2 separate regions of the Homo sapiens genome follow, and region 2 is linked to region 1. The links come from fine-mapping of genetic effects on gene expression. A gene starts in region 1. The other region holds a variant in brackets. All regions are shown on one strand. Distances are between the middles of the regions.

Evidence for each region. PIP is the estimated chance that this variant, and not a neighbour inherited with it, causes the effect.
Region 2: its variant is the best candidate, but not a certain one, in a credible set for the expression of HHIPL1 in fetal neocortex (Walker 2019, PIP 0.89).

What each region holds. Positions count from the first base shown.
Region 1 is chr14:99,642,509-99,646,894 of GRCh38, forward strand. HHIPL1 (HHIP like 1) reads left to right here and starts at 2,621. Exons shown (of 9, transcript NM_001127258.3): 1 at 2,621-2,954. The coding sequence starts at 2,700.
Region 2 is chr14:99,607,857-99,612,242 of GRCh38, forward strand. It overlaps a transcript of HHIPL1 not described here. Among named protein-coding and RNA genes, the nearest start is that of CCDC85C, 5.8 kb to the left of the region's middle. The variant A/C (reference allele first, on the strand shown) is at 2,746.

The DNA.
Region 1 (4,386 bases):
CTTTTAATATATCTTTTAATTTTTTTTTTTTTTCTGAGACGGAGTCTCGCTCTGTCACCCAGGCTGGAGTGCAGTGGCGCAATCTTAGCTGATTGCAAGTTCCGCCTCCTGGGTTCACGCCATTCTCCTGCCTCGGCCTCCCAAGTAGCTGGGACTATAGGCGCCCATCACCATGCCCGGCTAAATTTTGTATTTTTAGTAGAGATGGGGTTTCACCGTATTAGCCAGTATGATTTCGATCTCCTGACATCGTGATCCGCCCACCTTGGCCTCCCAAAGTGCTGGGGTTACAGGCATGAGCCACTGTGCCCGGCCTTCATTTTTTTTCTTAAAGTGGACCCCTCTCTGCTTCTATTACCCATTTGTCCTTGCCAATGTCCTTGTCAATATTCAGAGATGTTTGGTCTTGATGTTGTCAACTTTTTCCACCAGAGCCCTTAACATATTAGTCATAGTTATTTTAAATTCCATGTCTGGTAATTTCAGCATCTGTGTCATGTCCCAGGCTGGCTCTGATGCTCCTTCTGACTGACTTTTTTTTTTCTTTTTTGAGACAGAGTCTCGCTCTGTCACCCAGGCTGGAGTGCAATGGCACGATCTCAGCTCACTACAGCCTCCGCCTCCTGGGTTCAAGCGATTCTCATGCCTCAGCCTCCCAGTAGCTGGGATTATAGGCGCGTGCCACCACGCCTGGCTAATTTTTGTATTTTTAGTAGAGACGAGATTTCACCATGTTGACCAGGCTGGTTTCGAACTCCTGACCTCGGGTGATCCGCCCGCCTCAGCCTCCCAAAGTTCTGGGATTACAGGCGTGAGCCACTGTGCCCGGCTCCTGACTGTGACTTTTCTTATCTTTTTTTCATGCCTTGTTGTTTTTCTGGAAAGCCAATCAGGATGTACTAGATAACAGAAACCGAGGTAAATAGGTATTAGGGTGAGGATTTATGTTACTCTGGCTGGGGCTGGGCTGTGTTTGACATTTTCTGTGGCTGTAGGAGCCCAAACCTCATGGCTGTGGCCCAGGCTCTGTGTCACTTCCACCTCTGTACACTCATCTGGAGCCCTGTGTTGATGTGTGACTATCACCCAGTTCTGAGTCCCAGCTGGGAAGTAGGCGCCATCGTGCCCTCCGATTCCATCCTGGCTCTGCCTATTCCCAGCTGTCTGTGCAGGAAGCCGTTGCAGGCCGCATTTCCCACCCTAGCAGCCCTCTGCTAGGTTCAGCCAATGAAAGCCACAGGTGGGAGTTGGAGGGGAAGTGGCAGGGAGAAGCCGGGGTATTTCTCCTCCTCTGTCTGTGCAGAATCTCTGACAGTGGCTATCTCCAGCTGTGGCCAGACAGGCCTTGTGAGGGTCCAGCTTTGACAAGGTGACCATAGCTCCTTGGCTCCAGTAACATCTGCTCTTCCTGCATCAAGGACCTGGGGACTGTTCCTACTGTTGCTGATCTCAAGGTTACTTCACTGAGCCCTGTATGGCTTCTTAGCCTCTTTGGCTTCAAGTCCCTGCGTTAAATTCCCCGTGTTTCAAATACTCAGAGATGTTTGGCTGTGCGGAGACCCTGACTCTTACACTGCACCTGTTCAGGCCAGAGCCACAGACCTCTGAGTGCTCCAGCCCTGCCGCATCTCATCCACCCCCAGCTCTGCCAGGAGCATGGGCCCAAAGACAGAAACATGATCCCCCAGGACAGTCCAAAGAGACCTGCAGAGGACGGATGTGTGCGTTGGGGCCATGAAGATGGAGTAGGAGCTCACTGGACAGAGAAGATGGGGAAGGACACTCCAGGGAGAAGCAAACGCTGAGGTCCACTTGAGAAAAATGCCTGGGTGGTTTTGGTGCTGTGAGATTCTAGGGTAGGTGAGACAGTGTGTGTGTGTTTGTCTGTGTGGGTGGTTTTGGTGCCATGAGATTCTGGGGTAGGTAAGACAGCGTGTGTGCGTCTGTATGTGTGTGGGGGGGTGGGGCGGGGTTGGGTCTGAATCTCCAGCGGGGGCAGCGGAACAAAGGGCTGGATGCCCATCCCAGGAGGTAGATTCATCAGTGCTCCCTATGCGAGAGTGGAAGTGGGGAGCCCCAGTGGGTCCTGGGCTGCAGGAGAATCCGCTGCCCCAGGAGCAGAGACTGGGAAGAAGCCCACAGTAAGGGCAAAGGGTGGACTGCGGAGACTGCTCCGTCCTCCCTCCCCACCCCTACGCCAGGTTTCACTTCTCCCTGAGAGTCCTGGGGCAACACCCCCTGTTCTTTCCCTCGCACCCCCATTTTTAAAATGTTACGTGGGAGCTTTCGGGGACGGGCTGCGGGCATCCGTTTCCCTAGCCCAGTGGGAGGTGGAACCGAAGCCCAGGAGTCCAGGCCTCTGGCCCTGCGCCTCCCTGGCTAAAGAGCGCCCTGTGGGGAGGAAGCAGGGCCCCAGGCGGAACCGGGAAAACACACCGGGGCTTTAAACAGACCGGGCCACTCCCATCGAATTTGGAAAGCGGTTAAAAGAGGTCGTGCCGCATTCTGCGCCGCGTCCCTCTTCCTTCAGTCCCGCCGAGTGTCCCCGACCAGAGGTGACCTCCTAGAAGGGGAGGTCCCCAAACTCGAGGCCCTGCGTGTAGGGAAGGGGAGCGCCCGCCCCTTCCCTGCCGCCGCGAGCGCCCCGGGAGGGGACCGGGGCTGCCGTCCCTCCGCCTCTTCCCCCGCGGGGCGTAGCGATGGCCCGGGCCAGGGCCGGGGCGCTGCTGGCGCTTTGGGTGCTCGGGGCCGCCGCGCATCCGCAGTGCCTGGACTTCAGGCCGCCCTTCCGGCCGACGCAGCCGCTGCGCCTCTGCGCGCAGTACTCGGACTTCGGCTGCTGCGATGAGGGGCGCGACGCCGAGCTGACCCGCCGCTTCTGGGCCCTGGCGAGCCGCGTGGACGCCGCCGAGTGGGCCGCGTGCGCCGGCTACGCGAGGGACCTGCTGTGCCAGGTGAGCGGGCGCGCGGCCACCGGGCGGGGCGGGGCGCGGGAGGCCGAGTCCTGGAGCAGAGATCGGAACCCCGCGGGGGCGAGGGCCAAGAGTGGGCGGCGGACTCGGGAACTCTAAGCCCCAACAGGGAGTCATTTGGCACGGGGCGGGGAGACCGCGCATCCCAGGACGACTCTTGGCTTTGCCATTCATTAGTTTTGTGACTTGGGCCTTCTCGGGGCCTCAGTTTCCCCTCCTGAAGCAGGAAGGACGGACGGACGGACAGATGATGTCATCATTTCCTCAGAGGTTGGGGGCTCTTCTGCCCCAGTCCCCTGGAGTCGACCCCTCAGCGTCCCACCCCGAGCAGCTGCACCCTTGTCGGGGTACCAAGGTGGAGAGGCATCTGTCCCGGTCAGTGCTCCTTTGTGTTGTCCCCGGGGCAGTGAAAGCAGGGGGCCCTGGCGTGGGCGTGGTCAACGTGTGGCCCGGGTTTGTTGAGGGGGTTGGGGCCACTGTCCCCCACGAGCGTCTCACCCCCATCCTGATGCCCTTGCCACTTCCGCCACCACCTCTGTGGGTGCTGTGCCCTCTCCTGGGGATGGCGCCCTGGCCTGCAGAAGCTCTCTCAAGACTGAGCGACAGCTCTTTGTTGAAGCCCCTGGGCCCCCCATCTTCCCTCTGAGGGTGGAGCCCCTGCTTCTGTGCACACCTGGTGGTGCCACCGCTATTTGTTTTCCTCTTGTGGGAGTCTGAGGCCCCAGGGCCTGACCACACCCAAGTGGGCAAATGTTGCCTGGCTGAATGCAGAAATGGAGCAGGACGGGCAGCCCCAAGGCATTCCTGCCTCAGCATCTGGGCAGTGAGAGGCCTGGGGTGGAGAGGCCCCAGGGGCCAGGGCCGTGTCCCAGCCTTCGGCCAGCAGGGGCAGGTGGTGTGGGGAAGGGCAAGAAGGCTGACTTGGAGTTGGAGTTTGATCCTGGCTCTGTCACTTCCCCAGCTTCGTGACCTGGGCAGGTCACTGCTGCACCTCACAATATCTTTAAAATGAAGCTGAGTATGGTGGCTTATGCCTGTAATCCCAGCACTTTGGGAGGCCAAGGTGGGCAGATCACTTGAGGTCAGGAGTTCGAGACCAGCCTGGCCAACATGGCGAAACTCCATCTCTACAAAAATACAAAAATTAACTGGGCATGTTGGGGAGCTCCTGTAATCCCAGCTACTCGGGAGGCTGAGGCAGGAGAAGCACTTGACTCTGGGAGGCAGAGGTTGCAGTGAGCCAAGATTGAGCCACTGCACCCCAGCCTGGGCAACAGAGCAAGACTCCGTCTCAAAAATATAATATAATATAATATGATATGATATGATATGATATGATATGATATGATATGATATAATATAATATAATATAATATAATATGATATAATATGATACATAAAATAAATAAAATAA
Region 2 (4,386 bases), 35 kb before region 1:
TCACTGAACATAGAGGAAATCTATGAGTATATATGCATTTATACACAAACACATTTAAATGGGAATATATATATACACATTGCAATGCATTGTGGTAAGTACTGCAAATGAGAATGGGCAGAACACATCATTGTGGGAGCATGCTCAGGCACTGGGAGTGGCTTCCTAGAGGAGGTGAATCTTGAAGGAGTTTGTCGTCTTGTGGAGTGGGGAGGAGGCTCCAGGTGGAGGAAGCAGTACAAGCAAAGGCCCAGAGGTGAGCAGGCGAGGGGTGTGGAGAGACACTATTACACCTTGCAGCTGGGGTATACAGAAGGGAACAGCAGGGTGGGGAAAGTCGGGAAGAGGTTGAGCGATGGAGCTGGGCAGAGGAGGGCTTTGTAAGCCTCAGAAGGAAGCTGGACCCTTTCCCTGGGAGCTCTGATATCTAATAATAATGGCAATGACAATGACAATAACCAACACCACCTGCCGCTTATCCTAGACTCAGTATATGCCAATGATTCTAACCTGTCCTCTTTTGAGGGTTATAATAAACCTATGAGGAGGTGTCATTAGCCCTTCGAGGATTGAACATGGGTTCTTATTGGCTGGTTGTTTGCCTCCAAGAAGCTCAGCTCATTGGGCGTGAACTTACAGGCAGTGTTCAGAGGCTTGTGGACACCCAAGGACTCTGGTATGGCCAACAAAGTGTTTGGTGGTAGCTGAATCTTCTTCAGGACAGTGAGGCAATGGTGGCTGACCAGGTCTGGGCCAGACTATGAGGTATCATCCTGAAAGGCTACCAGCAGCAAGAAGTCAGGGTCCACTGAAAAGTGGTTAAGTGTTACTAATATGGACAATGTTGACTGGGCACTTTCTAGGTACCCAGCACTGTGCTAGAGTTCCACATAGATTGTCTCACTGACTCCTCACTGATGCGGTAAGAACCCTCTGTTCCCATTTTACAGAGTAAGAAACTGAGGCTCACACAGGTTAAGTCACTTGCCCAAGGTCACATGGCTAGCAAGTGGCTGAACCAGGATTTGAACCCAGGACCATCTGAGCTCCAGAGTGTATCTGACCCCATAGACTACTGTCTCCCACACCTCAGTTTCCCTTCTCAAGAAGGAGGAATGGGGTGGATGCTCTGCGATGTCTCTTCTGCTGTGACTCTGGTTCTGTGATGCTGAGTGTCTGCAAGGTGCCTGGACCCATGTTCACCACCCACTTCCTCCTGCTTCAGGCTTTTCCATGTTGTGACCAAGCCTCAGTGGCTCTGACGCCTCTGGATGGCACCTGTGGTCAGAGCTCTCCAGCTATTTCTACTGATAGAACACTGCATGTCATTAGCTCAGTCTCCCTGCAACTCTATCACTGTCTGGGTGGGTGACCCTAGACCAGTCCCTTGTCCTCTCAGAGCCCCAGTATTCTCATCCAAGCCCTCCCTGACAGAGCTAGTGTTAAGCACTTGGCAGAGCTCTTGCAAAGCTCTGGGGAGGGGAGCCACGCTTCCTTTCCCATCCTCTGCACCAGGACTATCTTCCCATGAGGATATTTCTACCCATTTTCCAGAGGCAAACACTGAGGTCCAGTGAAACAAGGATTGTCCAGGAAACCCCATGCTTGCCCCTGGCAGACTGGGCTACAAAGGATTCTGGGTATGGCCCTGGGCTGCCACCTTCTTCCTTTTGGGGTGGGGCCAGCCCAGAATATGGGGATCCTCAAGAACACAGAGTTCCGAGGTCATGTGTCTCAACTCCCACATTTATAGGTGGGGAAACCGCATGAAGCTGGGACTGCCAGTTTCCCTACATGCTGGACCGCCAGGGGCAGCAGTGAGAGGGCTAGGGGAGGATGGGTTCCTTCATCCCCACTGTTAACCATCGTGCCAGGCACCTTTCTGGAGCTCAGGAAGTCCGCACTGCACAGGACGGCTGCCTAGAACCGCTGATGTTGCAAGGCAAGGGTGCAGCTGAAGCCCAAAGGGCCTCACATGTTGACAAAAAGCCTCAAGTATAACCTGATGGCAGTGGGGAGCCACAGAAAGGCTTAGAGCAGAGGAGAGATCTGGCCAGACTTGTGTGTGATTAGAAAGCACTCAACAGGAGGTTTGAGGGGAGATCACTGAGACTAGCAGACAGTGAGAAGGCTTTGAGGCCAGGCAGGCCAGAGCCAGAGCCAAGTGTGATGGAAATAAAGAGATTGATGGGGGCTGTCAGCATCTGACCCCTCCCTTTCCATGACTTCCCAGCCAGAGCCATGGAAATTCTCCGCCTGCCCCTTTAGCTGCTGACATCTCCTCACACCATCGCCTGATGGAACAAGACAAGAGGGAGGCTCAACATACTGGGGAAACTGAGTCAGGGGAGTTCTTTGCAGAGCTGGCTATTGCCTCAATGCACTTAATATTATTCTTATGGTGAACTGGTTCATATTACAAAGAACACTGAGAAGCATATGCCTGGGAGCCCACCACCCAGACTAAAGTATTACCACTTCTGCTTTTGATGCTCCTGCAGCCCCTCCTGGTCACAGGTCCCAGCCTTCCCCGACCCAAGGGTATCTGGGAATCTCAGTGTTGTGTTGGTTATTCCTGTGCTTTCAGCTTACCATATTTCTCCCTTATAAGATAGTGTTTAGACCAGGCACGGTGGCTCACACCTGTAATCCCAGCACTTTGGGAGGCCAAGGCAGGTGGATCACTTGAGGCCCGGAGTTCGAGACCAGCCTGGCTAACATGACAAAACCCCCATCTCCAGTGAA[A/C]ATACAAAAATTAGCCAGGTGTGGTGGCAGGTGCCTGTAATCCTAGCTATTCAGGAGGCTGAGGCAGGAGAATCGCTTGAACCCGGGAGGCAGAGGTTGCAGTGAGCAGAGATCATGCCACTGCACTCTAGCCTAGACAACAGAGCAAGACTCCACCTCAAAAAAAAATAGTGTTTGATTTTGCATGCTTTTGAACTCTTTCATGGCATGGTCCTTCATGTGTTCATTTGCAGCGTGCTTCTGCCCTCATTATGTTGGTACATGTAGCTGTAGTTCATTCATTTTCATAGCCATATAGCAAGGTTACTCAACCTCAGCGTGGTTGTGAGGGGCTACTGTGTGCATTGTAGGACATTCACCAGCAACCCTGGCCTCCACCCATTTGACGGAAGTAGTACCCCTGTCCCCCACTTTAAAAACTAAAAATATTTTCATACATTGCCGAATTGCCCTTGGCTAAGAACTACTGCTATCTTAGATCCATTGCATGCATATATTACCTTTACTTTTCTCCTGTTGAAGACATTTGTTTCTAGTTTTGTTTGTTTGTTCATTTGAGACTCTGTCACCCAGGCCAGAGTGCAATGGTTCAGTCATGGCTGACTGCAGCCTTAACCTCCCAGACTCACTCAAGTGATCCTCCTGCCTCAGCCTCCTGAGTAGCTTGGACTACAGGCTCTCACCACCTGTAATTTTTTTTTTTTTTTTTTGAGATGGAGTCTCACTCTGTCACCCAGGCTGGAGTGCAATAGCACTATCTCGGCTCACTGCAACCTCCACCTCCTGGGTTCAAGTGATTCCCCTGCCTCAGCCTTCTGAGTAGCTGAGATTACAGGCATCCACCACCACGCCCAGGTAATTTTTAGTAAAGACAGGGTTTCACCATGTTGGTCAGGCTGGTCTCGAACTCCTGACCTCAGGTGATCCACCCACCTTGGCCTCCCAAAATCCTGGGATTAAAAATGTGAGCCACCGTGCCTGGCCTTTTTTTTTTTTTTTTTTTTTAAAGAAAGATTGGTTCTCACTATGTTGCCCAGGCTGATCTTGAACTTCTGGCCTCAAGTGATCCTCCTGCCTCAGCCTCCTAAAGTGTTGGGATTTCAGGTGGGAGCCACCATGCCCAGCCTAGTTTTTGGGTTGTTTTTTTTTTTTCCTATAAGCAATGCCCTGTGGACCTTCTTATACGCGTGTCCCAACGCACATGAGTATGAACTTTGCTCACATCTATACCAAGACAGAGAATGTCAGGGTCACACAGTACACACAGGTTGGCTAGACAGTGCCAAAGTGCTTTCCAAAGAGCTGGGGCTAATTCTTACTCCTGCCAGAAGGATATGGGATGTGCCTTGCCCATCCTCGGTGATGTCTAGGGTTGTCACTCTGGTGGGCAAAGATGCTTGTACTTTCTTTAACCTGCTTTGTCTTTCTTGAGGCTCTGTATTAATTTATTCTCACCTGCTATGAAGAAATACCCAACACTGGGTAATTTACAAAGGAAAGAGGCTTGATTGACTCACAGTTCCGCGTGGCCAGGGAAGCCTCAGGAAACTTACCAATCACGGTGGCAGGAGAGAGAATGAGAGCCGAGCGATGGGGAGAGCCCCTTAGAAAACCATCAGGTCTTGTGAGAACTCACTGACG